Homo sapiens: one gene and its partners. The protein of the gene in region 7 interacts with the protein of the main gene of each other region in a pairwise test. Each region holds a gene or a part of one and is shown on either strand. Other genes may lie near its edges.

Evidence for each region.
Region 1: the proteins of SYK (region 7) and CPNE8 interact in binary tests that used the Homo sapiens proteins (3 or more experiments, as listed by UniProt).
Region 2: the proteins of SYK (region 7) and MET interact in binary tests that used the Homo sapiens proteins (3 or more experiments, as listed by UniProt).
Region 3: the proteins of SYK (region 7) and LRP1 interact in binary tests that used the Homo sapiens proteins (3 or more experiments, as listed by UniProt).
Region 4: the proteins of SYK (region 7) and CD22 interact in binary tests that used the Homo sapiens proteins (3 or more experiments, as listed by UniProt).
Region 5: the proteins of SYK (region 7) and BLMH interact in binary tests that used the Homo sapiens proteins (3 or more experiments, as listed by UniProt).
Region 6: the proteins of SYK (region 7) and GAB1 interact in binary tests that used the Homo sapiens proteins (3 or more experiments, as listed by UniProt).

The regions. Positions count from the first base shown.
Region 1 is NC_000012.12:38,895,005-38,899,236, forward strand, and holds part of CPNE8 (copine-8), read right to left. Parts: intron 1-4,232. UniProt on the Homo sapiens protein: Probable calcium-dependent phospholipid-binding protein that may play a role in calcium-mediated intracellular processes.
Region 2 is NC_000007.14:116,751,639-116,755,870, reverse strand, and holds part of MET (hepatocyte growth factor receptor isoform b preproprotein), read right to left. Parts: intron 517-4,232; coding exon 356-516; intron 1-355. UniProt on the Homo sapiens protein: Receptor tyrosine kinase that transduces signals from the extracellular matrix into the cytoplasm by binding to hepatocyte growth factor/HGF ligand. Regulates many physiological processes including proliferation, scattering, morphogenesis and survival.
Region 3 is NC_000012.12:57,197,793-57,202,024, forward strand, and holds part of LRP1 (prolow-density lipoprotein receptor-related protein 1 preproprotein), read left to right. Parts: intron 1-363; coding exon 364-551; intron 552-672; coding exon 673-878; intron 879-1,419; coding exon 1,420-1,608; intron 1,609-2,084; coding exon 2,085-2,233; intron 2,234-2,649; coding exon 2,650-2,743; intron 2,744-2,906; coding exon 2,907-3,023; intron 3,024-3,241; coding exon 3,242-3,361; intron 3,362-3,704; coding exon 3,705-3,827; intron 3,828-3,987; coding exon 3,988-4,113; intron 4,114-4,232. UniProt on the Homo sapiens protein: Endocytic receptor involved in endocytosis and in phagocytosis of apoptotic cells. Required for early embryonic development. Involved in cellular lipid homeostasis.
Region 4 is NC_000019.10:35,335,275-35,339,506, forward strand, and holds part of CD22 (B-cell receptor CD22 isoform 1 precursor), read left to right. Parts: intron 1-761; coding exon 762-1,067; intron 1,068-2,480; coding exon 2,481-2,747; intron 2,748-2,893; coding exon 2,894-3,157; intron 3,158-4,232. UniProt on the Homo sapiens protein: Most highly expressed siglec (sialic acid-binding immunoglobulin-like lectin) on B-cells that plays a role in various aspects of B-cell biology including differentiation, antigen presentation, and trafficking to bone marrow.
Region 5 is NC_000017.11:30,250,482-30,254,334, reverse strand, and holds part of BLMH (bleomycin hydrolase), read left to right. Parts: intron 1-2,101; exon of another isoform or gene 2,102-2,261; intron 2,262-3,853. UniProt on the Homo sapiens protein: The normal physiological role of BLM hydrolase is unknown, but it catalyzes the inactivation of the antitumor drug BLM (a glycopeptide) by hydrolyzing the carboxamide bond of its B-aminoalaninamide moiety thus protecting normal and malignant cells from BLM toxicity.
Region 6 is NC_000004.12:143,412,778-143,417,009, forward strand, and holds part of GAB1 (GRB2-associated-binding protein 1), read left to right. Parts: intron 1-2,699; coding exon 2,700-2,994; intron 2,995-4,232. UniProt on the Homo sapiens protein: Adapter protein that plays a role in intracellular signaling cascades triggered by activated receptor-type kinases. Plays a role in FGFR1 signaling. Probably involved in signaling by the epidermal growth factor receptor (EGFR) and the insulin receptor (INSR).
Region 7 is NC_000009.12:90,843,160-90,847,391, forward strand, and holds part of SYK (tyrosine-protein kinase SYK), read left to right. Parts: intron 1-698; 5' UTR 699-739; coding exon 740-1,156; intron 1,157-2,274; coding exon 2,275-2,435; intron 2,436-4,232. UniProt on the Homo sapiens protein: Non-receptor tyrosine kinase which mediates signal transduction downstream of a variety of transmembrane receptors including classical immunoreceptors like the B-cell receptor (BCR).

The DNA of each region.
Region 1 (4,232 bases), on a different chromosome or scaffold from region 7:
TGGCAATTATAATCATATCTCTGGTTCATTACACTCTCTGACATTTGAGATTGTTCTTAATAAAATTAATGTGTCACTTGTTACTTATTTTACATACATAGAGAGCATGAAGCTAATTAGCAAGGTAAGAAAAAATTGACTTTTACAAACTCATGCCACAATTCATATAGCTCAGAATAATGTACTGATATTAATATCGAAGTAGTTATTTTATTTACATGAAATTCTGAAGAATGAATTTGCCATGAAGGGAAACTCTGGAATTAAGTATTACTGAAAAGCTAGCAAGTTAAACGGTGACTTCCCCAGTGCTAAGAAAGCACTGGACTGAAATTGTAGGGCCTGAGGTCAATTCTCAATTCCACTGGTAAATTTGAATGTCACATAGTCATTTCAATTAACTTTTCTTACTTTTCATTTGCCCAGACTATCACCTCTCTCCAGTATTTAGTTTTCATCTCACCCTGCCTGCTGATTTCTAGCTAAATAGTCTTCTCATTACTTAATTTCCTACATCTTCATTAGGTAACTCAGCATCAGAAAAAGATAAGAATCAATACTGGAAATAAAACATCACATGGTTAAAGTTTATGCCACTCCTATGAATTGCTCTACTCAAAGCTCTCACCAGTAGGGAACAGAAAAACAGGAAAGCATTCTGTGTTTTGCATCCTCAGAGAAATATATCCTTTGTGGTAGAGTAGTGTTGATATGATCTATTATAATTGCATCTCCTAAGCTTTATAATTTCTTTTAGTTACTAACACACTGGTATTGACAGAAAAGAGCTCCACTCTTCAAGCCGACAATAAAGAATTTATGGAAGAACAACATAATATAGCTAATGGTCATAAGCTTATGCTTAGGAATTAGACATATATGGATAGGAACTCAACTTTGCCACTTACTAGATACGTGACTTAAACCAAATTACTTATACTCTCTCTAAACCTCAATTTCTTCACTTGTAAAACAGGACATAACATCACCTCTTTTCAGAATTGCAAGGATTGAATGAATTAGCCCACATTAACCACTTTATACATTGTCTGACAAAGAGTTAGATTTTGAGATTAATTTAAAGAAAATAGATGGCAAATATCCAAAAGTTGCATGTTTCTTGGCTTCATTAAAATAGCTTATATTTGAATTCGTTTACTGTCTAATAAATAGAAATATTTGCTGGGGACTATCAGTGATATTTTGTTTCTTCAGAGTTTCAGAAAATCAGCTGATGATTCCCTCAGAAGGTCTGCAACATTATTCTTCACAGAATAAACCTGACAAAAACCCTCACAATTTGAACAAGAATGTCTGGTAGCTAATGGTCCTGGCTGGAGAGGCACTAACACTGAATGTTGTCATTAAGTTTGCCAATATTAAGGTATTGTGTATCAGGGAGTGAACATCATTGGTCCCTGGGTCAGGCACCTTTTAAATACATCCTATTTTATTACAGGCAATAACTACTTGCCTTACCTCAGCCTGTATTGGCAACTACAGCAGTATCTGTTTTATCATGCCCAACACAAAACAGCTGTCTTAAATATCAGCCCGTTGACTTTATTGAGCAGATACAAGAATGTTCTTTTGTTCTAAAACTTGGTTATTATAGCAGACTACCTCCTACCTGTCAAATCCCACATGACTGATTGTGTCTTGGCAGAAGTGGGCCTATGGGGTGGAATCTGTAGAAACTGAGTGTGCATTTACAAATCCACACTATTCTAACGACTGTTTTATTCCACACTCTCTCCACATTGAATTAATCAGCATGGGATAACATGCAGCTTTATCACTGTCACCTTGGTTCTATGTTTCTGTGGCTCCCCAAATTGACTATAAATTTTTCCAAAGTACAGATACCTTCTTCTATGTTGCTGTGTGCCACACAGTAAAATGCTGAAGAACCTGGGATAAGACTAATAGCCAGTTAGTGCTTTTCTTGTGACAGGCTGGGCATTGTACAGACTTTATTTCATTTACTCATCCAACAACCTTGAAATTTTGGTTTTTAAATAATTTCTATGTTACAGATTAGGAAATGAGGTTCCAAAAGTTGAAACAGGTTACCCAAAATAACATTCCAAAAAGGGATAAAAATGAGATTTAAAGACATCTGTCTGATTTCTAATTCCATTTTCTTGCTGCTATACTCTGCTGCCTCAAATTCTCATTAATCTCTAAATGCAACATTCTTATGGTAATAAAAGTATTTAGAAAAGTGCAGCCAGTAGCTTAGCCTTGATTCTGCGTATTTAAATAGGAATGGGATGGAAGTAACCAAAACAAGCTACCAAAATCCCTTTGAGAAGATAGCTTATTAATCATTTCAGTTCTAGAAAACTATCCCCAGGAAAAAAAAGTAACCAGAGATGTTAGATGTTTGTGATGGAGAATACTCATTTTTAACACTGTTTTGAATAGCAACTTTTTGAAATAAATTTTGGAAAACAAGGGTTAAGTTAAATAAACATAGTACAACCATATAATAGAATACTGCACAGACATGGAAGGTTATATTTCCAAAAACTAATAACAACAACATATTCATGATATAATATTAAGGGAAAAGTACAGGAAAAATATTGTATAGAATATATAATTATATTCTATATTAATACACACTATTAATATATTACATATTGTATTATGTATTATATATTATATGTGTGTATATATTAATATACACAGAGAGAATATAAATGTGATGCTATACATGAGACAAAAATGAACTCATTTGCTCATAGTTTGACGCAACAGCGAAGGATTTTAATTTTTTTATTATCTCTTTGTAATCATTGAGTGCTTAACTAATGTCACAAGCAGTGTTTTATCTCACTTACATGTATTAACTTATTTAATCCTCAAAGCAAATATAAGAACTGGGGGCTATTATTATCCCCACTTTACAGATGAGGAAACTGAGGAACAGATGTTTCAAAGATACTAAGTGGCAGAGCTAATCTAGCCCTACACCCACGTTCTTCAGCGCTAAGCAAAACTGGCTCTCAAACAGGCTAAGAACTGGATGAAATCTCTTTGAGAGGAATTGTATTTCTTCTCAGTCTTGAGTAAACTCAAATAGGGGATATAGGCTTCTGCCTGCTACAACACAAATAACAGACCTAAAGGAGCACAGCTATTACCACCCTCTCCTGTGGGATCCTGTCCTTTAAACTGCTTCTAGATTAGCATTCTCCACATACCAGGGCTGTTTTAAAACCCCTCAGGCCCCAAATGCTAAAAAACACAGGCAGACCAAAATACTGGTGGAACAACAATGTTAAGTAAGGTATTTCTCTGAAAAAAAAATATACCAGGGCAACTCTCACATTAAGACTTCAACGCCACAGTTCAGAAAGTTCCCAGGACAAATTTTACTGAAACTCTGGGGCTAAGACAAACCTAAATATGATCAAAAAAGGCACTACAGGGTGACTACAATCTTGAACCACAGGATCTCAAGAGCTGCAGAGACAGAATAGGATGTTACGGTCTACAACAACTTTACCCTCTGTTTACCTGTCATATGGCTCATTAACAGCACAACAGGCAGTCTAATATCCCTAGCTTATATAACTTAATTTATCAACTAACAACATCACTTGAAAATCTATTTACATAGTATCTCCAAATTTTTTGTCTGACTAAAGAAAGGTAAAGTATGCTAAGAGATGAACCAATGTGGACTAAGGTAGAGCCTCCAACTGTTGTGTTTGAATGCTTTGATTCCTTTCACCGCAGATCATTAGAACAGCACAGGTATCTACCTCAGACAGCCAACTCCAAAAAGGGTCAGACACTCTCTCTTGGAATCTAACTTTGCTTTCGCAGATGGTCAGTTAATCACTAAGTGTAGCTGGACTTGTAACATGTAAACTTGCAAAGGATATGCCACCAGTGGATGGAGAAAGAGGGAAAGAAAAATACAACTTCAAAGTAAGAGAAGAATAAAAGTGTAGAGAGAACCACATGAAAAGGAGAGGGAGAAATTTAAAAGTCTCTAAGTTCCTAACTGCAATATACCTGCTATCACAACTTTTATGGATTATAAAATCATACAACCCCACTTATTCCAGTAGAGAAGGAAGACCAGAGATAGTGCTGAACTTGACACTACCACTTCTAATAGTGACAGTCTAACAAGAGTGTTATGAACTGAATGTTTGCGTCCCCCCAAAATTCATGTGTTGAAATCCTAACCCCTAATGTGATGATATTAGGAGGTA
Region 2 (4,232 bases), on a different chromosome or scaffold from region 7:
AAAAGCCTTTGGAGACTCTACATTTGAAGACTCCAAGGATGAAGTGATCCCAACTAGTGCTACTCTTGCAAATCTACTCAGACAACACCTGAAGACTTGTCGCATAAATGGTTGAGAAACTCCCATTTCTGGCCTCTTCTCTTCACCTAGGCCATGTCACCTTTCTCTCTCTTCAAATCCAATGAGTAAATGGGATTACAAGAACAAAACAGAACAGACCCACAAGGCATGTGACAGGCCAAGACCCTTTTTAATTCAAGAGATGAGCTTCTTGAGCAATTTTAAAAGAAATATTCATTCAAAAACAAAACCTATTTTCCAAGCACACCCCAGCAAAGCATTTTAAGATCCTTACGTATTCATCGTGCTCTCACTTAAAGTCAAGGTGCAGCTCTCATTTCCAAGGAGAACTCTAGTTTTCTTTAAATCAAATTTATTATTCCTCCGAAATCCAAAGTCCCAGCCACATATGGTCAGCCTTGTCCCTCCTTCAAGGGGTGCACTATTTGGGAAAACCTACAAGGACAACATAGAACTTTTAAAAAAACCCAATATATTATAATTTTTCACATATATGGAAAACGAACAAACAAAATGTATATCCTTAAATAGTCTGAAATTCTTTCATTTTCCCACAATTTAGTAAAAATTTAATTTTCACTAAAGGGAAAAGGGTCACAAATTTCAGAGCATCTGGAACAAACATTAAAACTACATGACATGTTAATGAAACAAGTTGTTTTCAGGAGATCCAAAGATGGGACAAAGAGCAGATGCAGCTTGGTAGGAATAAAGGGGCTTTTCGAGTCCTTCCGTTCTTTCTTTCTTTTCTTTCTTTCTTTCTTTCTTTCTTTCTTTCTTTCTTTCTTTCTTTCTTTCTTTCTTTCCTTTCTCTGCTTCCTTCCTTCTCTTTCTTTCTCTTTCTTTCTTTCTTTCTTTCTTTCTTTCTTTCTTTCTTTCTTTCTTTCTTTCTTTCTCTCTTTCTCTCTCTCTCTCTTTCTTTCTTTTTCTTTCCCTCCCTTCCTTTCTTCCTTCTTTCTTTTCTTTTCTTTTTCAGACAGAGTCTGGCTCTGTTGTTCAGGCTGGAGTGCAGTGGCGTGATCATGGCTCACTGCAGCCTCAACCTCTTGAGCTCAAGCAATCCTCCCACATTAGCCTCCTGAGTAGCTGGGATCACAGGCGTGGGCCACCATGCTTGGCTATTTTTTTTTTTTCTAGAGACAGGGTCTCACTACGTTGCCCAGCTGGTCTCAAACTCCTGGGCTCAAGTGATCCTCCTGCCTTGGCCTCCCAAAGTGCTAGGATTACAAGCATGAGCCATTGGACCTGGCCCTTTTTGGGCCATTCTGAAGTGAATTCATCTTCTAGGGCTCTTTAGGGTAGGAGTAGAAACACGTTGGGCCCAGACTTTTACTTGCTCATAACTCTGATTGTAACTCTTCATCAGCCTTCGGACTGAGCTCTTATCAAACTCCTTCATGTGCTCTATAAGCCAAGGTCCAGCCATTATACGCCTTGCTCTGTGCACTGGCTGCGTGCACTACATTCTGGTTGCTATGGTATTCCCCACCCAGAGACAAAAGTTGCACAGTAAAAATACCTCATTTGGTATCCAGTGTTTGCCCAGTTGCATTCAGCAGCTAGCATAATATGAAACATATAGATGGTTTTGGAACACATATCTGCCAATAATTCATTCATTCATTCATTCATTCATTATTTACTTATTTACTTTTAGAGATGGGGGTCTCACTCTTGCCCAGTCTGCAGTGCAGTGGCATAGTCCTAGCTCACTGCAGCCTCAAACTCCTGGGCTCAAGCAATCCTCCCGCCTCAGCCTCTCTAGTAGACAGGACTACAGGTGTGCGCCACCTCACCCAGCTAATTTTTAAATTTCTGTAGAGACGGGGTCTTGTTATGCTGCCCAGGTTTCATTAATTATTTCTTAATAAAGCACCTCCTATGCACCAGGCACTAACAAATGAAAAGTGAATCTACTTCTTTTTACCTATTAGTTCACATTTATTAATGACTGAAGATTTTTCCTTGTTCTTTAAATATGGTCACTATTTGATGTATACCAGGCTGGTTAGTTGACACACTCAGCCTTTTAAAAATTATGTAATATTTAATACATGTGTTATGTTGTTTCTTTTAGAAATAGATAAAAACGGAACCAGAGAGGGCCCAAAATCAGTATTGTAACAATTTTTCCTAATTATCTTCATTGGTATTGTTTTATATCTCATTTTTAGGATTAAATTTTTCCCCCTGATGGTTGATGTTAAGCAAATAACAGACTCATTTTGTTATTGCAGACTCATTTCTGGTATGTTATCAATGGATTTATTGATAAACCTTGGTCAGTCATGATTTAAGACCGCATTAGGCACCTATAAAGTGTGTAAGATAATTGCTCTCAGGCTAAAACTATTAAAACAAAACACATTTCCAAGTTAAAAATAAGCTTCTTCTCAGCAGCTTTGTGACAATTGAGAAAGGAAATGCTCTTTTGGGGGTGGGGACATATTGTAAATTGTGCTGTAAAGTACAATGGTGGGAAAACTAAGATAGAGGCAACTCAAGAACCAGTAAAGGTATTTGCTAAAGCTCAGCTTGTGAACATCTAAAAGTGATTCTTTTACAATTAAGAAGGGCTTTTAGCCAAATTCAAACTTGCAAACATTTCCATCCTTCCTAAGTAAATAATTGCAAACCAAAGTCTTAATGTACCCTCGTTATCAAACCCCTTTAAAGTTTTAGCTTAAAGCTTTTATGATAGCCATTTTACCCATAAAAATCCATTACACTGTTGTGCCTTTCCTGAAAATTTACCTCATCCATGTCTAGTCAAATGAGAACTACTAGAAAAATAAATCTGTTTATTATTATTATGGTAGAAATCCAGTAGGAGAGAACAAGACATCCAACCCTCCCAGGACTCTCTTCAGCCTGAGGCAGTCACACAGCTGCTGCCGGCTCTTCTAATGAGGAGGCTTCCCCACTGAAAACGCTGCCCAAGGCTGATGTTGGCCTGATCCCACTGCCTACATCCCGTCTTTCTATGTAAAAACTGAAGTCTGTCACTCTACACACATCATTACCATCACTTTCTATAAAAGGCAAACGGATTGGGTGATGATTTGAGAAAAGACGCAGAGAGCTGCGCAACTGGGGCACTGGCAATAGGAAGAGATATTATAAGCCCTCTGCTAGACCCTCAGGATCCAAGAGGCTCGCTCTGCTTAGCTTTTCTCTCTGGGCTGGGCATTTTCCCCTTAGCTTATGGGGTAACCTTTACCCTTCTAGGGAAAAAGGAAGGAAGCAGTTGTGAACTACACACCCTTGGATAGACCCAACAATGGCTGGCAAACTCTGAGTTATCCTGAAGGGCAGAGAAACTCTGTGGGCAGGAAATGAGCGTCCGGCATAAAGCCACAGAGGCTGGGTCTCCTACCTGTCTGGATAGGGGAGATACAGCCACAAAAGTAGCCCTTGTCTTTTCACAGGTGAAAGATCACATCACTGATGGGCCCATTCCAACAGTATTTTAAATGATCATGCTTTCAAAACCCATTAGGATAAAACATGAGAAAACTAAAAAACAAAAACAAAACAGAACAAAAAAACTCCAAAAGGGGTCTCCTTTCCTCTTTAGTAGAACTCACAAATATATTTACTGGTGGCAGTATACTGCCTGCCTACCCTCCTATCCCTATATAATACTGCTTTTCTGAGTATTCTGATCAATGAATAGTTCTGTTGTCTCACTGGGGTTGAATTTTCTTTCTTTCTTTCTTTTTTTTTATTGAGACAGAGTCTCGTTCTGTCATCCAGGCTGGAGTGCAGTGGAGCAATCTTGGCTCACTGCAAGCTCCGCCACCCAGGTTCACGCCATTCTCCTGCCTCAGCCTCCCGAGTAGCTGGTACTACAGGCACCTGCCACCATGCCTAGCTAATTTTTCCTATTTTTAGTGGAGACAGGGTTTCACCGTGTTAGCCAGGATGGTCTCGATCTCCTGACCTCGTGATCTGCCCACCTCGGCCTCCCAAAGTGCTGGGATTACAGACATGAGCCACCACGCCCGGCCTGAATTTTCAACCTTACAAGATATGATAACTGCATCCTAATACATTCAGAATATATTAAAAAGTGCTCTCCCTTTTCTGAAGCATTTCTCATTGCTCTTTAAGTATGAGATCAGATACCATGTTTGAAGCAAAATAATGGG
Region 3 (4,232 bases), on a different chromosome or scaffold from region 7:
TGTTCTAGCTGCTCACTCTCCTCTGGGCCCAGACAGCAAGGACTGGGAGATTCCTCTTGCCCTTCCCCTCGCTGCCAGCCTCATGTCTCCTTAATCATCAGGAAGTTCCCTGTGAGGTCTGGCCAAGCACTGTGAGGCTTGGGGCGTGGTCCCATTCACCTAGAGCCCCCTCTCCTAGAGCCTCTGCTGACACCTACACAGTGTCAGGCCCAGGACTGGGCATTTTACTTCCATGGTTCTCCCACCAGAGCTGTCAGAGGGAGCTCTACCCCATTTTACACGAGGGGAGGCTGAGCCTCACAGAGGCTTGCAGGTCCTCCCCCAGGTCACCCAGAGCTCTCCCTCCCCTGCCCCTTCCTGCAGGTCCTACACCGTACAGGCCTCAGCAACCCCGATGGGCTGGCTGTGGACTGGGTGGGTGGCAACCTGTACTGGTGCGACAAAGGCCGGGACACCATCGAGGTGTCCAAGCTCAATGGGGCCTATCGGACGGTGCTGGTCAGCTCTGGCCTCCGTGAGCCCAGGGCTCTGGTGGTGGATGTGCAGAATGGGTATGTGGCTGAGGAGGGTTGGGGGAGCCCCTGAAAGCAGCATCCAAGCCCAGCCTCCCTGCAGGCCACTGGTGCGATGGGTTACGGGATCTCCCAGGGCTCACTGCCTACCCATCGCCAGGTACCTGTACTGGACAGACTGGGGTGACCATTCACTGATCGGCCGCATCGGCATGGATGGGTCCAGCCGCAGCGTCATCGTGGACACCAAGATCACATGGCCCAATGGCCTGACGCTGGACTATGTCACTGAGCGCATCTACTGGGCCGACGCCCGCGAGGACTACATTGAATTTGCCAGCCTGGATGGCTCCAATCGCCACGTTGGTCAGTGTGCCAGTGAGGCTGTCCAGGCACAGCAGACTCAGTGGGGATGGAGGTCTGAAGCGACAGGGGATCAAGTTTTGGGGGCAAGAGTGGACATAAAAAGCGGAGGATATGGCCTGAGGACACCACTCACTGGGGTGTGGGGTTCAGAGCACCCCGGGGGCTTCCCCAGCCTGGCCACCACCCAGCTCCCTTGGGAAGGAAGAGGAGAGGCCCTTCCCTTGTATACACAGTTCTGGAGGACTGGCCCCAAGGAGGGTGGGGGTGGGAGGCCTGCGATTGAGAACTGCAGTGCTCCCCACTTCCCGAGGGGAGCCATACACTGGCAGGGCAGGAACTTGCCATGAGGCAGTCTAGGTTTGAACTCCAGCTCTGACACTTGTTAGCTGTGAGACCATGGGGGGTCTGTACCATGAACCATCTGTAACTGGGGCTGACACCCACCTCTCAGGGTGGTGGTAGGGCTTGAGGAGGTGGAGTGGGCCGGCACCCTGTCCGAGCTCCGGCTGACTGGCACTGTGCCTGCCCCTTGGCCCTGCAGTGCTGAGCCAGGACATCCCGCACATCTTTGCACTGACCCTGTTTGAGGACTACGTCTACTGGACCGACTGGGAAACAAAGTCCATTAACCGAGCCCACAAGACCACGGGCACCAACAAAACGCTCCTCATCAGCACGCTGCACCGGCCCATGGACCTGCATGTCTTCCATGCCCTGCGCCAGCCAGACGGTGAGCAGGCAAGGGGTGGGAGCAGGCGAACGGTGAGCCAGGCACCGGGGTCCCTGGGAGTTCCTGCTCATCCCTTCTCTAGCATTGACCAAGCCCTCCTGGCCAGACACTGGGAGACTCCAGGAGGGTCTAGACAGGGGATGGTCTGGCTCCCGGGAGCTTCAGCCCGGCCTGGATCCAGCCCTGGAGTCTGGCAGCAGCAAGTCCCTGAGGCCAGTCAAGTGGGGGTCTGGGTGCCCAGCCCCCAGAAGGAAGGCAGGCCGGCCCCTGGGAGGGAAGCACAGAGGAGGTGGGGAGCTGGCCTTCAGGCCTGGCCTGATCCTGGGACCTTAGAATCCTCTCCTATCTCCAGCTTCAGCTCCCTCCTAAAAGAGGCAGGGTTCAGACCCACCCGCCTCTGTCCAGGATAGAGTGAGTGAGGCAGCCTTTGGTAGGCCAGAAAATGTCACCATATTTCACGACGTTTTCTCTGGCAGTGCCCAATCACCCCTGCAAGGTCAACAATGGTGGCTGCAGCAACCTGTGCCTGCTGTCCCCCGGGGGAGGGCACAAATGTGCCTGCCCCACCAACTTCTACCTGGGCAGCGATGGGCGCACCTGTGTGTCCAACTGCACGGCTAGCCAGGTGAGGCTGTCCCCCAGACCCCATCACCAGTGCCCGCTCCCCAACCCCCAAATCCTCCTTGGACCCCAACACCTGCTCTGTCCTAATGTCCTCATGCATCTGGTTTTCCCACACTAACACCCCCACATTTCTTGCCTACCTCTTGTCTCCCCACAGCAATACTTTTACCCCCGTCACCTCACACAGACACCTCCACACCCTAACCTTGACCCTCCTTGCCATGCTTCAGTGCTGCCTTCCCCACCCTATCCCACGCAGCCCCATACCTGGCCTTTCCGAACTCACCATAGCCCAACCTGCCCCATAACACCCTGACCCCTGCCTCAACTTCTTTGAAACATCCAAGCCCCTCAAAAGAAAGACTTCTGAGTCCCCCAGACCCCCACCAACCCCTCTTGCCCCCACCTGCCCTCCAGTTTGTATGCAAGAACGACAAGTGCATCCCCTTCTGGTGGAAGTGTGACACCGAGGACGACTGCGGGGACCACTCAGACGAGCCCCCGGACTGCCGTGAGTGCCTGCTGGGGGTGACAGGAGGGCCCCCAGCTGTGTCGGAGGCCTGACTCCTGAGGCTTTGAATGGCCACTGGAGAGGCTGGGGCTGTGGTGCCCTGCAAGTGGACCTGGCCGTGTCCACCCCAGCCGCTCTGACTCTGAGCCTCCCTCTCTGGCAGCTGAGTTCAAGTGCCGGCCCGGACAGTTCCAGTGCTCCACAGGTATCTGCACAAACCCTGCCTTCATCTGCGATGGCGACAATGACTGCCAGGACAACAGTGACGAGGCCAACTGTGGTAAGGCGCTGCCCGCCCACCCTCCCTCCTTCCCCAGCATCTTCCCTGCCCCAGGATTTGGGGCTTTCAAGTGCAGGGAAGTTGCAGCCCACGGCAGCTTGCTCTCCAGGCTGGATTCCTATGGCTCAAGCCTGTGTCCTCCCTGCTGAGGGATGGGCACCCTCTCCCTGCCCCTGAGTCCTCCCTTCGCCACGAATCACCTCCTCCTCCCTCCACAGACATCCACGTCTGCTTGCCCAGTCAGTTCAAATGCACCAACACCAACCGCTGTATTCCCGGCATCTTCCGCTGCAATGGGCAGGACAACTGCGGAGATGGGGAGGATGAGAGGGACTGCCGTGAGTGTCAGAGGTGGTGGTGGGCCGGTGGTGGGAGATGACACGGAAGCAGGGCAGGCAGAATCTCCCCACAGCTTTGAGAGGCTCTCAAATAACTTTAGTAGATGGGCAACACAAATTATATTGGGTGTAACTTGCTTTGCTCATAAAAATCATCATGCATGATATAGAGACATAGAGATCCAGAAAACAAAAAGCACCAAAACTGGGGATAAACTGTTCCTTCCTCCGAAGAAGTTGCTGGCAGGACCAAGGCCAGGGCTTGGAAGAGAGAGAAGACAGTGATGGTGAACTGGAGTGGCAGGTGTAAGGGAGGGCCCTCATTCTCTTGCCCACCCCACAGCCGAGGTGACCTGCGCCCCCAACCAGTTCCAGTGCTCCATTACCAAACGGTGCATCCCCCGGGTCTGGGTCTGCGACCGGGACAATGACTGTGTGGATGGCAGTGATGAGCCCGCCAACTGCAGTGAGTTGCCTGGCCTGGAGCCCAGCTTCCCTCCCCAGTGTCTGCTGCTCACACCACCCCGACGTGTGACCCCCTCAGTGGCTGCTCCCTCACTCTCCCCACCCTCCCGGCACACTCCTGGAAGGAGTCTCATCCTCACCCCATGCCCACCCGCTTGCAGCCCAGATGACCTGTGGTGTGGACGAGTTCCGCTGCAAGGATTCGGGCCGCTGCATCCCAGCGCGTTGGAAGTGTGACGGAGAGGATGACTGTGGGGATGGCTCGGATGAGCCCAAGGAAGAGTGTGGTGAGCCGAGACCCCACTCCAGGAGGAAGACAGTCTACCTGGGTGGGAGGCATGGCACCCCTGGCAGGTGGAGGGCTGGGGGCCGCCTGCTTACCGGTCTCAGCGTGGCCCTGCTGCTG
Region 4 (4,232 bases), on a different chromosome or scaffold from region 7:
GTTGGGTGCAGTGGTTCCCGCCTGTAACCCCAGCACTTTGGGAGGCTGAGATCGGAGGATCGTTTGAGCCCAGGAGTTTGAGACCAGCCTGGGTAACATGGCAAGACCCTGTCTCTACAAAATGTTTAAAAAACTAGCTAGGTGTGGTGGCACATGCCTGTAGTCCCAGTTACTCAGGGGGCTGAGGTGAGAGGATTGCTTGAGCCTAGGAGGTTGAGGCTACAGTGAGCTAGGATTGCGCCACTGCACTCCAGCCTGGGTGACAAAGCAAGACCCTGTCTCTAAAGAAAAAAAGAGGCCGGGTGTGGTGGCTTACACCTGTAATCCCAGCACTTTGGGAGGCCAAGGCGGGAGGATCACTTGAGGTCAGGAGTTCAAGACCAGCCTGGCCAACATGGCGAAACCCTGTCTCTACTAGAAATACAGAAAAATTAGCTGGGTGTGGTGGTGGGCACCTGTAATCCCAGCTACTCGGGAGGCTGAGGCAGGAGGATCACTTGAACTGGGGAGGTAGAGGTTACAGCGAGCCAAGATCGCGCCACTGCACTCCAGCCTGGGTGACAGAGGGAAACTCCATCTCAAAAAAACAACAACACAACAACAACAACAATAACAACAAAAAAACAAAGCAGGACTGGAGAGAGGTGGAATGAAGTGGCAAGGGGTTCCTGAGGGGTGATTTGGGACAGGACATCTAAAGCCAGGTGTACGCTCACGTCCTCAGTCCCCCAGGCTCCTGCACGGGCTCTGTTCTTTTGCAGAAAGGCCTTTTCCACCTCATATCCAGCTCCCTCCAGAAATTCAAGAGTCCCAGGAAGTCACTCTGACCTGCTTGCTGAATTTCTCCTGCTATGGGTATCCGATCCAATTGCAGTGGCTCCTAGAGGGGGTTCCAATGAGGCAGGCTGCTGTCACCTCGACCTCCTTGACCATCAAGTCTGTCTTCACCCGGAGCGAGCTCAAGTTCTCCCCACAGTGGAGTCACCATGGGAAGATTGTGACCTGCCAGCTTCAGGATGCAGATGGGAAGTTCCTCTCCAATGACACGGTGCAGCTGAACGTGAAGCGTGAGTCTCCCCGGCATGCCTGTGGGAAGGGCAAGGTCTGTGTCACCTTCTCCCCAGCCCCGCAGGGGGCATGCACCCAGGGCAGGGGGAAGCCTGCACAGACGGCGGCATCCTCCAGCCCTGGTCACGCCGCCTTGTCAGCCCTGGTGTTTCGGGAAAAAGATTTGCTCTAGCCTAACAGAATAAAATGGTCCATCCTCAAGCCATGACATGAATTGGGGATTATCTGGTTAGGTCTTTTTGTTCCCCTCTTGGTGGGGATTTTTTTCGCATCATTATCTTGTGCCTCATTCATTCAATAAATACGTATCATGAACCTACTAGGTACCAGGCCTTATTACGGCTGCCAATGGGGGGCATGGGGCGGTGGGCAGGGTGCAGCAGTGAGCAAAACTCTTGCCCCACGCGGAGCCAGCGCTGCAGTGAAAGAGACAGACAACAAATGGATTACCAAAGAAATACAGAGCATGAGCCAAGACATTAGAATCTGGAACAAAGCAATGTTAACAAAGAAATATACAACACTATTGTAGGTAGTGATATGTGTGTTAGGAAAAAAATAAGGCCGAGAGAGGGGAGTGATGGAGAGAGACCTCTCTAAGAAGGTGAGCACTTAGGCCGGGTGCGGTGGCTCACGCCTGTAATCCTAGCACTTTGGAAGGCCGAGGCGGGGGGATCACAAGGTCAGGAGATCGAGACCATCCTGGCTAACATGGTGAAACCCCATCTCTAGTAAAAATACAAAAAATTAGCCAGGCATGATGGCAGGCGCCTGTAGTCCCAGCTACTTGGGAGGCCAAGGCAGGAGAATGACATGAACCCAGGAGGCGGAGCTTGCAGTGAGCTGAGATCGCACCACTGCACTCCAACCTGGGTGACGAGTGAGACTCCATCTCAAAAAAAGAAAAAAAAAGAAGGTGAGCACTTAAGCTGACTGGAACGGAGGGAGTGGCTGAGGCCGGCACATATTTGGGAGAGGAGGATTTCAGGGAAAGAGAAGGGCAGGTTCAAAGCTTTGAGGCAGCAGCTGGGTGGGAGGACCTCAGAGGCTGAAGTTCACCGCCTCTGAGGGCCACATGGTAGGACAGGAGGCAGGAGATGGAGCAGGACTCTGGATCCCGAGGGCTGAGGTGAGGGTTTGGGATTCTATGCAAAGCACAGAACCCGCTCGTGGTTTCCAGCAGGATTGGCGAGGTCTGGTAGATGGTGTTAGGAACCCTGCGTGCTGCTGGTGGAGACCAAGAAGTAGAGGAAGTGGGAGGGGGAAGCTGAGAGCCGAGTTAGGAGGCTGTGACCATCACCTGGGTGAAGGGACTGGCAGGCCATGGCTTTGTCAGAATAAAAGCACTTTCCACACCCTCCACCCTCTGAGGATTCCCCGCCCCCTCCCCGACTGCCCCTCTGCTCCTCCAGACACCCCGAAGTTGGAGATCAAGGTCACTCCCAGTGATGCCATAGTGAGGGAGGGGGACTCTGTGACCATGACCTGCGAGGTCAGCAGCAGCAACCCGGAGTACACGACGGTATCCTGGCTCAAGGATGGGACCTCGCTGAAGAAGCAGAATACATTCACGCTAAACCTGCGCGAAGTGACCAAGGACCAGAGTGGGAAGTACTGCTGTCAGGTCTCCAATGACGTGGGCCCGGGAAGGTCGGAAGAAGTGTTCCTGCAAGTGCAGTGTGAGCCCCTCGGAGCTGGGGACAGGCCAGGCAGGGAGGTAGCAGGGGTGGACCCGGAGAGGGGAGCCACGGGGGCTCTCGGGGCCGTGTGCACAGGTTGGGGGTGCTCTCCTCACCCCTCCACTCGCCTCTGCCCCCTCTTCCAGATGCCCCGGAACCTTCCACGGTTCAGATCCTCCACTCACCGGCTGTGGAGGGAAGTCAAGTCGAGTTTCTTTGCATGTCACTGGCCAATCCTCTTCCAACAAATTACACGTGGTACCACAATGGGAAAGAAATGCAGGGAAGGACAGAGGAGAAAGTCCACATCCCAAAGATCCTCCCCTGGCACGCTGGGACTTATTCCTGTGTGGCAGAAAACATTCTTGGTACTGGACAGAGGGGCCCGGGAGCTGAGCTGGATGTCCAGTGTGAGTAGCCACGGAGCCTCTGGTTCTAGGGAGAGAAGATGGACACAGGGAACGGGGAAGGCAGATGGGGTGCAGGGCATTCCGGGGTCCTGGAGTCAAGAGCAAGGAGCAGCCAGGGTCTCCTGTTCACAACTGCTGTCTCAGCTCCTAGCATAGGGCCTGGCTCATGGAGGGTGCTTGGTAGATGCTTGTTTTTTTGTGTTTTAGTTTTTTTTGAGATGGAGTCTCCCTCTGTCTCCCAGGCTGGAGTGCAGTGGCACAATCTCGGCTCACTGCAAGCTCCACCTTCCCGGGTTCATGCCATTCTCCTGTCTCAGCCTCCTGAGTAGCTGGGATGACAGGCGCCCGCCACCACGCCCGGCTAATTATTTGTACTTTTAGTAGAGACGGGGTTTCACCGTGTTAGCCAGGATGGTCTCGATCTCCTGACCTCGTGATCCACCCGCCTCGGCCTCCCAAAGTGCTGGGATTAGAGGCGTGAGCCACCGCACCCGGCCTGTAGATGCTTGTTGAATGAATGAGGCCAGGTGCGGTGGCTCCCGCCTGCAATCCCAGCTCTTTAGGAGGCTGAGGCAGGAGGGTCTCTTGAACCCAGGAGTTTGAAACCAGCCTGGGCCACACAGCGAGATACCATCTCTACAAAAAAATACAAAAATTAGCTGAGCATGGTGGTGCGTGCCTGTGGTCCCAGCTACTGGGGAGGCTGAGGAGGGAGAATCACTTGAGCCCAGGAAGTGAAGGCTGCAGACTGAACTATGTTCCTGCTACTGCACTCTAGCCTGGGTGACAGAGCAAGACCTGGGTCTCAAAAAGAAAAAGAAAATGCTGGGACTGGGATTATAGGTGTGAGCTGGGCACAGTGGCTCACACTTGTAATCCCAGCACTTTGGGAGGCCAAGGTAGGCAGCTCACTTGAGGCCACGAGTTCAAGCCCAGCCTGGGCAACATGGTAAAACCCCATCTCTACAAAAAAAAATTAGCCTGGCATGGTCATGCATGCCTGTAGTCTCAGCTACCCAGGAGGCTGAGGTGGGAGGATCACCTGAGCCTGGAAGTAGAGGCTGCAGTGAGCCTG
Region 5 (3,853 bases), on a different chromosome or scaffold from region 7:
GTGACTGAATGAGGCCTTGGTAGTCCAGCTTCTTAGTTCCATGCTGCCAGACAGACCGTCAGAGCAGAACAGATACCTTCATTTTGTCATAACTTTTTTAAAAATGGCAAAAAATAATAGCCACATACAGTTTGTTAGTGAGGTGAAATTCCTCATAGAACAAAGACAACAAAGAATATAAAATGTTTCTAATATGTTAAAATATATTTTATATTCTTTGTATTCTTTAGTCTGAAAGGCTTAAATCTTACATTTCTGGTGGGATTTCAGAAAAAAAAGTTTTCTTAGGTAAAGCGTCTTTTTTCCCTTAAACTAGCCCATTTGAAACTCTTCTGTTTCTGAATGAATTTCACCTAACCTGTCTACAGCTATATTCACAGACACTGTTTTTCCCTTTACAGACTGACCCTACCCTTTCTGTTACAAAATACAGAAACGTTGCCAGTGTTTTTTGGTTGGTTGGTTGGTTTGAGGTGTTTTGTTTTGAGGACTGTTCACTTTTCTTTCTTTCTCATCGCATGTAAACAAGACATTAAAGTTTAAACAAAATTTAATTTCACCTTAGTTCCTAAAGCTGACTTTATCTATTTGTCTGTGTTTCACTCAGTGTAACCTTGGGATCCCTGGAGCAGGTTTTTATTTTGTTTTCTTTTCTTTTTTCCTTGGAATGCTTGTGTCTCACGGCCAGTGTGTCTAAGGGTTAGGAGCTGCACCTTCCCGCAAGTCAAAAGGGCCAGCCGAATCCTGCCTGAGCCGGTGCTTTGCTGCTTCCTACACAGGTTTCAGACACACTGATCCTAATCTTCTCAGTCAAACTCCAAGACACACAGTGTCAACAGTTACGGCAGCCACAAGTTCATTATCTACATAGGGCGCAATTACTTGGCAGCTACCTAGACTGTGAGGTTTTTGTGGGTCCCCAAAGAACTCATATCCTGAAGAGAGAGACTAATCAAGGCGGGTCCTCTTGGCAGGGACATTGAAAGGGTGGGTTACAATTGATAGGAATTTTAATTTGTGAGGACTTAATCTGATATGCTTTTGGAACAAGATAGTGTAGATGTACTTATTGTCCATCTTCTGGGAGCATTCTTTGAAGATTCATTTGATTGTATGGTGATAGTATTGTTGAAAGGACACAGAATTTTATTACATGAATCTGCTTCTATCCTTCACCTGCCTAACTGCCCAGGGCCACTGCAGTGATTTATTCAGCCTGCATTGTGGTGAGGGAAGGGACGACTAATGTCTCAAACAGTGTGGTGTTCCCTAGTCTGCTCTCCTGCTTGCTGAAAGCTCCTTTTTGGGAAGGCAGATGCTTAGTTTTTCAGGAAGCACTCACTTAGGATGCAGTATTTTAGTTTTAAATAATACGCACTGGTTGACCTTTGAGCGGACAGAACTTTTGTTGCTAGAACCTGGTGGCACTGGTGTGGGTGATGTTAATTAAGGGCCAGGTCCTGACACCAACAAAGCCAGGAAGTTTGGAATATATAATCAAGACAAGCCAGAAGTAGCTACAGAGTGGGCCTGTACTGTCCTTCCGTCTCTCGTCTATTGAAAGTAGGGGCCCTGGATCCAGGAGGCCAGCTTATCAGGAGACAAGAGTGCATTCCTTTACCTGCCTTGGTCGGAGCACTTGAACACTTTTACAGAGCACTCCCAACCCCTACCATTCCCACCCCCAAGACAGGGTCTCACTCTGTTTAGGCTAGAGTGCAGTGGTGTGATCTTGGCTCACTGAAACCACAGGCTCAGGCCACCACACCAGCTAATTTTTTTTTTTTTTTTTTTTTTTTTTGTGAGGATGGGGTTTCGCCATGTTGCCCAGGCTGGTCTTGAACAACTGGGCTCAAGCAATCCACCTGCCTCGGCCTCCTAAAGTGCTGAAATTATAGGTGTGAGCCACTGCACCTGGCCTCCACAGTGTTTTTGAGGGTAAACGTATGCTATGCCACGTCAGGATGATCTGTCTTTGACTTCTGTCGGGTGAAAAACAGGATTGGGCATAGATGACTTCACCAAATCAATTGTGTTTTCAGGTTAAATAATGCCCTTTGTCACACCTTTTAGCATACAAAATTAGACTTACCAGTATTGTTGCCTTTAAATTTAATCCAGTCTTGCCTCAAGAGCAGCAGTTCTCAAAGTGTGATCTTTGGTTCCCTAGGGCCCTTTCAGGGAGTGTGCAGGGTCTGCCCTTGAGCAACATATCTGTGTGAGGCTGGATTTCCTTCATCTGCTTCAAGCAGAACAACATACTGCAACAGATTAAACACAGATGCAGATACAGGAATTCAGCTGTCTTCTGCAAATCTAGACATTAAAATGTAAAACAATGCCACTTTTTTAACTAAAAATATTTTTTTACATAATATAATTTTTTTCCTCAAAATATATTGTTTATATTCATTTTTCATACTTATTTTTAAATGAATTAATATTTTTAACTTTCTGTTTTAGTTTCTGATATAGTAAATAATGATAGATATTAGTCCACATAAAGAATGTTTTCGGTCCCTAATAATTTTAAGAATGTAAAGGGCAGGGCTTGAGGCCAAGAGGCTTGAGAACTGCTCACTAGGGGACCCTCTTGCTAGAAACACCTACTTCTCCGTTCTCTTGGTCCTGTGTAGTGGGAAATGGTATAGCACAGGCCTAGGTTTATGAGAACTGCTCACTAGGGGACCCTCTTGCTAGAAACACCTACTTCTCCGTTCTCTTGGTCCTGTGTAGTGGGAAATGGTATAGCACAGGCCTAGGTTTATACAAACTTTCAGAGAAAAATGGCTCCAGTGTTTACTATAAAACAAGTAGCAGATACGGTCAGATGACAGTCGTGGTGCTGATGGCCATTGCTAGTCCGGGAGCCCTTGGATGTGTGTGCCTGCCTTTCTCTTGATTCAGTACACATCGTTTGCTCTGTGTTCTGTCTGTGGCCCAGCAGCCCATTCTTGTTTTAAATATACGGACTTCAGTCTCTCACTTTAATTTTGCTCTTCTTATTAGCAATGGCTCGGGTAAAGCATTTTTTTCCCATTTAAGTTTTTTGGAGATCTGTTCCTGAAAGAACAGATTTGTTTGTTTTTGTTTTTTTAACTTTCAGTAGTTTTTGGGGAACAGGTGGGTTTTGGTTACATGGATAAGTTCTTTAGTGGTGATTTCTGGGACTTTGGTGCACCCAGCACCTAAGCAGTGTACACTGGTATGTTGTCTTTGTTTTATCCCTCCACCCCTCCCACTCTTCCATCCTGAGTGCCCAAAGTCCATTATATCATTCTTATGCCTTTGCATCCTCATAGTTTAGCTCCAACTTATATAAGTGAGAACATATGATATTTGGTTTTCCATTCCTGAGTTACTTCATTTAGAATCATGGCCTCCAGCTCCATCGAAGTTGCTACAAAATACATTATTTTTTTCCTTTTTATGGCCGAGTATAATATTCCATGATGTATAAATATCACATTTTCTTTATCCACTCGTTGGTTGATGGGCACTTAGGTTGGTTCCATGTTTTTGTAGTTGTGAATTGTGCTGCTATAAGCATGCGTGTGCATGTGTCTTTTTCATTTAGTGACCTCTTTTCCTTTGGGTAGATACCCAGTAGAGGGATTGCTGGATCGAATGGTAGATCGTTAGTTCTTTAAGGAATCTCCATACCGTTTTCCTTAGTGGTTGTACTAGTTTATATTCCCACCAGCATTGTAAAAGTGTTCCCTTTTCACCACATCCACACCAACATCTGTAATTTTTTTGCTTTTTAATTATGGCCATTCTTGCAGGAGTAAGGTGGTATCACATTGTGGTTTTAATTTGCATTTCTCTGATAATTAGTGATGTTGAGCATTTT
Region 6 (4,232 bases), on a different chromosome or scaffold from region 7:
AGGCAGGTAAGAGTTTAGCCTCCTATAAACCCTATTATTGGAGGGGGAAAAGTGACAGTTGATGGAAATTGAGAGAAAAAAGACAGGAAACTGTATTTAAAAGATGAACTATACAAGCATAGCAATATGGTACTATTTATTAATAGTATAGGGGCAAATGACACTCTATACAGTGCAACAGCCTCTGAGAGTCTCCTGAAGTGCAGTATAGAAATGGATGCTTACAATACTTAGTCTGAATCATTGGGGAATGGATTATGTTTGGTGAAGTATGTAGTAAAGCATTTTAGAAAGATTTGCGTGCAAGACAATAAAGTTTTAAAAAGTCATTTCTGTATTTAAAGATGAAGCTTCACTATCTGGAGAAATCACTTACTGAATGATATGATTTCTTGAGGGCCCTGCATAAATAACATCATATTTTATATTCTTTTGCTTTACTTCTGCATTACTTTTTAAAGCTTACTGCTTGAGAGGGAAGTATCCATAGAGGGATAATTTTACTAAGAGATGATATTTATTTATTTTGCAGTAAGTAGATGCATATTCAATGAATGGATTTTTATAGTCCAGAAAACAGTGCTAAAATCATGTGAATCCAACACTTTATGACTTTTCAATATTATCTAAAACATCTATAGGACTCTACCCTGCCTTCCCTGGACACAAATTATATACTTATTCCTTTGAGCTGCGTGAAGAATGAGAAGTTAATTTAAAATGTTGATGATTAAAGACCTATATAATGTTTTTAGGCCTTTGTGATCTCTGGTCATCCTCTTGTTAAAGGATTGCCTAAATTTTTCTGTAGAGGAATGCTTGTTCATGTAGCAATACCTCTGCAGACATTTTGCCTGGGTTGCTGTAGTCTCAAGTATTTTCATGTATGTTAAATATTTTTTTCCACAATTAGTCAATTCTTTGAAGGTAGGAATAATGAATTATATACTTGTTTTTCTTCCCACAAGTAGCAAAGGGAATGTTTTATTCCACTGGGGGTTTTCGAGTCCTTCCACTTCCCAGAGCATCCCCACCACCCCGCTGCCCTTTTTTTTTTTTTTTTTTTTTTTTGAGGAGGAGTCTTCTTCTGTCCAGGCTGGAGCGCAGTGATCTCAGCTCACTGCAACTGCCAACTCCGGGTTCAAGCGATTCTCCTGCCTCAGCCTCCTAAGTAGCTGGGATTACAGGAACCTGCCACCACACCCAGCTAATTTTTGTATTTTTTAGTAGAGACGGGGTTTCACCATGTTGGCCAGGCTGGTCTCGAACTCCTGACCTCAGGTGATCTGCCCACCTCGGCCTCCCAATGTGCTGGGATTACAGGCATGAGCCACTGCACCCAGGCCCAGAGTGTCCTCTTGAGGTAGTCTTACCTAGAATGTTGAATCTGGAGCAGAGAATGTTTCTTAGTAAATGACTGAGACTTGCTAAAATAGGCCTCTTTTCTGTCTAGCTGCCTCCCTGAGGAAGAATTTCAAAGAGGAGTAAGGTGTAAGTTTGTTTCCAGGCACACATGTTGGGGTTAAAGGCTGATAAGGAAGGCTGTTTGTCATTTGGTTCTGCTTTTATTATTTGGTGACCATAGATTTAGGGAGGGTGATAGTAAAATAATTTTTTAGGCTTCTCTAGGTATAGTATTAAACTCAAAATTTACCAGAACTTGTGGAGGGGGTATGTGGTGAGTGTATTACAGATTGCCCATGTATGTTTGTTGGGAAGAGGAGGGGAAATATTAGAAAGAGTTAAATCCCATACTCAAGAATACAGGTCTTACTCGTATAGTCTTTGAACAACAGGCTGTGTGGCTAAAAGAGAGACACAATCAATTGCTTCCCAGTCAAGAAGCCAGAAAAGCTTCAAAACCTTTCCCCCTCCCTACTCCTTGCCACCGCACCTAAAAAAAAGAGAAATCTTTTAAGTGTTTAAAATCTGTAGGAGTCTTATGAAGAAGCAGCTTTATGTGTATTCTTTATGGCATAATATTAATGCATGAAAATCTGTTGCTTTTTTAAAAATTGTGGCAAAATATACATAACATAAAATTTATCATTTTAGCTATTTTTAATATACAATTCACTAGCATTAAGTATTAATACATTCACAGCACCATTGCAACCATGGCCACCATCATCTCCAGAACTTGATCTTCTTCAACTCAAACTCTAGGCCCATTAAATACTGTAATAACTCTCCATTTCCCACCCCTCCCCCTCCGCAGGGCCTGACAAATACCATTCTGCTTTCTGTCTGTATGAATTTGACTACTTGAACTACCTCATATAAGTGGAATCATACAATATTTGTCTTTTTATGACTGGCTTATTTCACTTAGCATAATGTCCAGCTTCATTCTTTTGCGTATGGATTTCTAGTTTTCCTAACACCATTTGTTGAAACCATGACTTTTTCATATTTAGTAAAAACTGAATCCTCCTTGATGTATTGCCTCAATATTATATAGTAGGAGATTTAATCGAACATACTGAATATATATATACATTATTAAGTTAATTGAGTTATGAGTAAACGTTGCTTTTCAGAGTGGCAGATTATCCTGTGGTAAAAACACACACACAAACACACACATATTGTGACTTTCTCTAAACAATGCATTTGTAAAATCAGTTTGATAAATGTGCATCTTCTTGAAAACATTATCTCAAGTTAATACTGAATGGATATTTTTGTTTTGTTTCTAGGCATGGAAGAGGAGATGGTTCGTGTTACGCAGTGGCCGTTTAACTGGAGATCCAGATGTTTTGGAATATTACAAAAATGATCATGCCAAGAAGCCTATTCGTATTATTGATTTAAATTTATGTCAACAAGTAGATGCTGGATTGACATTTAACAAAAAAGAGTTTGAAAACAGCTACATTTTTGATATCAACACTATTGACCGGATTTTCTACTTGGTAGCAGACAGCGAGGAGGAGATGAATAAGTGGGTTCGTTGTATTTGTGACATCTGTGGGTTTAATCCAACAGAAGAAGGTAAGTTCAAGATATTACTATTCAACTTGAATTCTTCTTTTCTGCTACATTTCCAGAAATGTCATACAATTCTTTGTTATTTTAGTTACACAATATAATGTTTTATTTTTATAATAGGAACTTGACATTTGGAAAAAGCACTGAATCCTTTAATTAGTTTGGGGAGAAGCTGTTTACCAGTTTTAGAGCGACAGACTTAGACATATTGGGGCAGTTTTTAAATATCCTGAAGTAAAAGGTGACAAGAAGACATTTTAAGAACATTTATTGAATTCCAATATAAATATTCAGTTTAACCATATAACACTGTTGATATTTTACTATTTTTCACCTATTAAAAAATAGCACATTTGGCCGGGCGCGGTGGCTCATGCCTGCAATCCCAGCACTCTGGGAGGCCGAGGCGGGTGGATCACGAGGTCAGGAGATCAAGACCATCCTGGCTAACACAGTGAAACCCTGTCTCTACTAAAAATACAAAAAAAAATTAGCCGGGCTTGGTGGCAGGCACCTGTGGTCCCAGCTACTCCAGAGGCTGAGGCAGGAGAATGGTGTGAACCCGAGAGGTGGAGCTTACAGTGAGCCGAGATCGCGCCACTGCACTCCAGCCTTGGCGACAGAGCGAGACTCCGTCTCAAAAAAAAAGCACTTTTATGTAGCTCAACCCAATTCTTTAGGTGCTATTTAAAAATATATTTTAAAACTATATTAGATTATGGCCGGGCACAGTGGCTCACACCTATAATCCCTGCACTTTGGGAGACTGAGGCAGATGGGTCACTTGAGGTAAGGAGTTCTTCAAGACCAGCCTGGCCAACATGGTGAAATTCCATCTCTACTAAAAATACAAAAATTATCCAGGCATGGTGGCACACGCCTGTAGTTCCAGCTACCCAGGAGGCTGAGGCAGGAGAATCGCTTGAACCCAGGAGGCGGAGGCTACAGTGAGCCACAATTGCACCATTCCACTCCAGCCTGGGCGACAGAGCAAGATGCCGTCTCAAAAAACTATATTAGATTATCCCATTTATGCCTAGTGTTCCATTATTGGAACGCTAAGCATGTGGGAGTTATTTATATCCCACTGCTCAAGGTCATCGCCAAGGTCTGATTGCAAACATTCAAAAAATTGCAACCTCAAGCATAAATAGGTTATGAAGTTAGGAAATAGCCAAGGTAATTATCATTACCTATGAAATGCAAGTGAGAATCAGTCACAAAACACAATGAACAAGTAC
Region 7 (4,232 bases):
GCCCCAGGCCTCGGGAGCCAGGGAGGGTGTCACTCTTCATGTCTCAGGCAGTGGCTTGTTGCTATCATAGCCCCGGGCTGGAGGTGGGAAGGCCTTATGGTGACCACAAGTCACAGTTCCGTGTGGGCCCTCAACGTGGCCTCACTTCACCTCTGGGGCTCAGCACCAGCGTGTGACTGACTGCTCGAGGCAGCGTCTCGCAGCTCAGGTGGGTGAGGTGGTGGTAGCGTCCTCCTTGGTAATATCACTGTGATGAGGAGCAAGGCTTCTCTAACATTGTCTGGACTCAGGAGGAGCAGTTGGTTTGTTCTCATGTAGATTCTGCCTCCTGTATGCTGCTGGGACCCTGAGGGTCAGCCCAAGAGTCCTGTTTTGCAATAGCCCTTCTGTTTGCTTCTCTTTGCGGTATGTTTATTTTTAGAATTCTTTGTCTTTCCCCACTCCCCCCAAAAAAGAATTATTTAATTTGGTCACTTCCATCAAATGCTCTGATTTTAGCTTAGTTAGAAGGCATGCTGAAAACTGTAATGATGATGTGAACAGAAAGACAACTGTGTGTTGGGAGGGCCAAAGAGGGAAGTGCCTTTGTTCAGAGATGGGAGGGTTTGTCTCCACTTTGAAAGGGTTTGAGTGGTTTTAGCAAACGTTCCCTGCCACGTGGGGTCCTCACCAAAGTTCTCTGTCTCTGTCTTGCCCAGGTGGACACCTGCGCAGGTGTGTGCCCTCCGGCCCCTGAAGCATGGCCAGCAGCGGCATGGCTGACAGCGCCAACCACCTGCCCTTCTTTTTCGGCAACATCACCCGGGAGGAGGCAGAAGATTACCTGGTCCAGGGGGGCATGAGTGATGGGCTTTATTTGCTGCGCCAGAGCCGCAACTACCTGGGTGGCTTCGCCCTGTCCGTGGCCCACGGGAGGAAGGCACACCACTACACCATCGAGCGGGAGCTGAATGGCACCTACGCCATCGCCGGTGGCAGGACCCATGCCAGCCCCGCCGACCTCTGCCACTACCACTCCCAGGAGTCTGATGGCCTGGTCTGCCTCCTCAAGAAGCCCTTCAACCGGCCCCAAGGGGTGCAGCCCAAGACTGGGCCCTTTGAGGATTTGAAGGAAAACCTCATCAGGGAATATGTGAAGCAGACATGGAACCTGCAGGTGGGCCACAGCTGGTCCTGCTCCCTGGGCCCAGGGGGCCCTGTGACCCCACACAGACTTCCTGGCTACATGCAACACATGTGCCTATGTGCCCTGTGTGCCCAAATAACACAACCATCTCCTTAAGCATCAATTTTGGCCAAAAAATGCCTCTCTCTGATAAGAGCCTTTCCTCTTTCACAGCCACAGCTGAGAGGGTGGGTCCCTTTGTGCCAGCAGTGTGGGTTTCTCCACAGCAGGGAACCACTGTTACCCAGTGCAAGGAGGGCCTTTTCAGAGAGGCATTGATAGGTGTTGATTGGTTTCTGTTTATCTGACAAGGTCCTACCATACACACTGATAGGCACTTGATTTTATGGCTTCCTAATATCTCTTGCAGAACTTTCTGTGTCAACACTCATATAGTTGCATCACCCGTTCTTTGGCTATCTGGTATCACCTGCTATGCACCACAATTTATTTAACTAGTACCTATTGATGGACACATTTGCTGTTTATGAATAAACGCTGCTAACAACATTGCTCTAGACCTATCGTATACTACACTTGTATGCAACGTCTGCAGGATAAACTTTGAAAGGGTTGGGATTGCCACAGCAAAGGATATGTGTGTTTATTTTTTTATTTTTTATTTTTTTGAGACAGAGTCTTGCTCTGTCACCCAGGCTGGAGTGCAGTGGCATGATCTCAGCTCAATGCAACCTCTGGCTCCAAGGTTCAAGCGATTCTACTGCCTCAGCCTCCCAAGTAGCTGGGATTACAGGCATGTGCCACCACACCTGGCTAATTTTTGTATTTTTAGTAGAGATGGGGTTTCACCATGCTGGCCAGGCTGGTCTCGAACTCCTGACCTCAAGTGAACCATCCTCCTTGGCCTCCCAAAATACTGGGATTATAAGCGTGAGCCACCGTGCCCGGCCATGTTATTTTTATTTATACACTTGAAAGTACTTAAGTAATGTGTAAAGGTCTTTCTGGTTTTATTTACTGAATGAATGAGTGAATAAGTTTTGATCCTGTTTTACCATGCCAGGACTCGAGATAGATTGGAAATGCCTTCTGCATCATTTTCATTTTTCCTCGGTATGGTTTACTCTGCTTTGCTCTCCATGTGGCAGGGTCAGGCTCTGGAGCAGGCCATCATCAGTCAGAAGCCTCAGCTGGAGAAGCTGATCGCTACCACAGCCCATGAAAAAATGCCTTGGTTCCATGGAAAAATCTCTCGGGAAGAATCTGAGCAAATTGTCCTGATAGGATCAAAGACAAATGGAAAGTTCCTGTGAGTATCGTGCCTTCCCCCTCACCTCCTGCCACCAGGCCTGTGTGGACAATTGGGAATAATTCAGCTTCCTTGTGACTGGCCCCACATGACCCTGGGAAGAGGCCATGCATTGCCATTTGACAACATGCATGCTGGCCTGTTCTAAAGACATTTCTAACCAAAGCTATCACTTGTGACCCAGTGTTTATTTTGCCCAGTCTAACTCTAAAATGAACACTCTTTTTGGGCACCGAGGGATGTAATATTTAAAGAAAATGTGATTCAGCCCCATATTCTCCTTTTAATGGCAAATTATAGGTTGCATAGCACATTCTGTGGTTATCCAACTAAAATTAAAATACTGCAGTTTTTTTACTCAAACTACCCCCTTGATCTCAGACTTTACTTCTATTTTACATGAAACAAGATGCCAACAGGAAAGATGTTAAGGAAAAGTTCCTGGGAGTAGCATCCATGAGTGGTGAGTGCAGGTTTGAAGACTTCAGCCTTAGGCCCACAGTCATTAGAGGGTCTGTCTGAATCCTGGGTTCTGTTTGCTATCCTCAGTGGTTCAGTGTAAATCTAAATTGTAGAAGGTTCTGAGATACAGGCCAACGTGGTCAGTCAGTTGTCCAGAGAAGGTAAAGAACTGTCTTTGGGAGGTGTCAACCTTGTTCCCTCGAGGGGGTCTGGTCAAGGTGGCTCAGTGGGGCAGTTGTCCCTGGGGGAAATGATCCCCTGGTCACCTCTCAGTGTCCCTACAGAGATGCTTACCTTGGAAACATAACCAGAAACAGCGATGCAGCCTCATGGTTTGGCAATTGGTGAATCCCCAGCCGACTTCGTAAACTTTTCCTAGATTTAGAAGCGTTTTCTCTGCCTGTCCATCTATTCAAAGGAATTTCCTCAGACTTCACTGTCATACCTTGTATTTTAAAAATGATCTTAGCTGAGTGCAGTGGCACGCACCTGTAGTCCCAGCTACTCCTGGCAGGAGGATCGCTTCATCCTCACTATGATCTCACTATCGTTTGAGGCTAGTTTGAGACCAGCCTGGGCAACATAGTGAGGCCCTGTCTCAAAAAAAGAAAAAAAGAAAAGAAAAATTGACCACAATACTCTTAAAAAAAAAAAAAAAAAAGGAAGAAGGAAGAGTGGCCCAGGTTGCCACGCGGCAGTGCCTAGAGTGATGGTCTTTAGTGGGATGCAGCCCCAGCCAGCAGCAGAATGCTGTGGGGAGGGAAGACATTGCCCCTCAGTGGAGGCACCTATGGCTATTTTTGCTGAGGTTTGGCTTCTTACCATCTCAGCAATAATTTCCAACATGAATGTCATGGGACCATGCACATAGCATCTTGGCATGTGAAGTCAACCCAAAATAGCATAATCCACACGATGAGGCTGGCCAACTTCTGCTGGTTAAGAAGCCTGCTCATAGCCTCTTTGGCCACGAAGCTGTTTCTTTTTTCGGAGTTGTCTATTCCCGAAAACAGCAGTTGCATCCTTCATGGCCATGACTTTTGCTCTCTCCTTCCTTTCTGGGAGATGTATATAAACCCCATGCAGAAGGCTGGGAGGTGCAGCTCTTGTTTGATGAACATGCCTTGTTCCCTATCTGCCCTGTACAGACTGACATCTCATGTGTCCTCACAGCACATGTCCCTGACACTGAGGCTTATGGTTTATGCAAGAGAGTCTCAAACTTGCCGTGCTTCCTATTCAGCTGGTGTCAGAGCTAACCAGGCATGGGCCTGTGAGAGAGGGGCCTGGGCTTCTGTGTTTTCATCGAGCACCCTCTCCTTAGTTGTCTTCTTC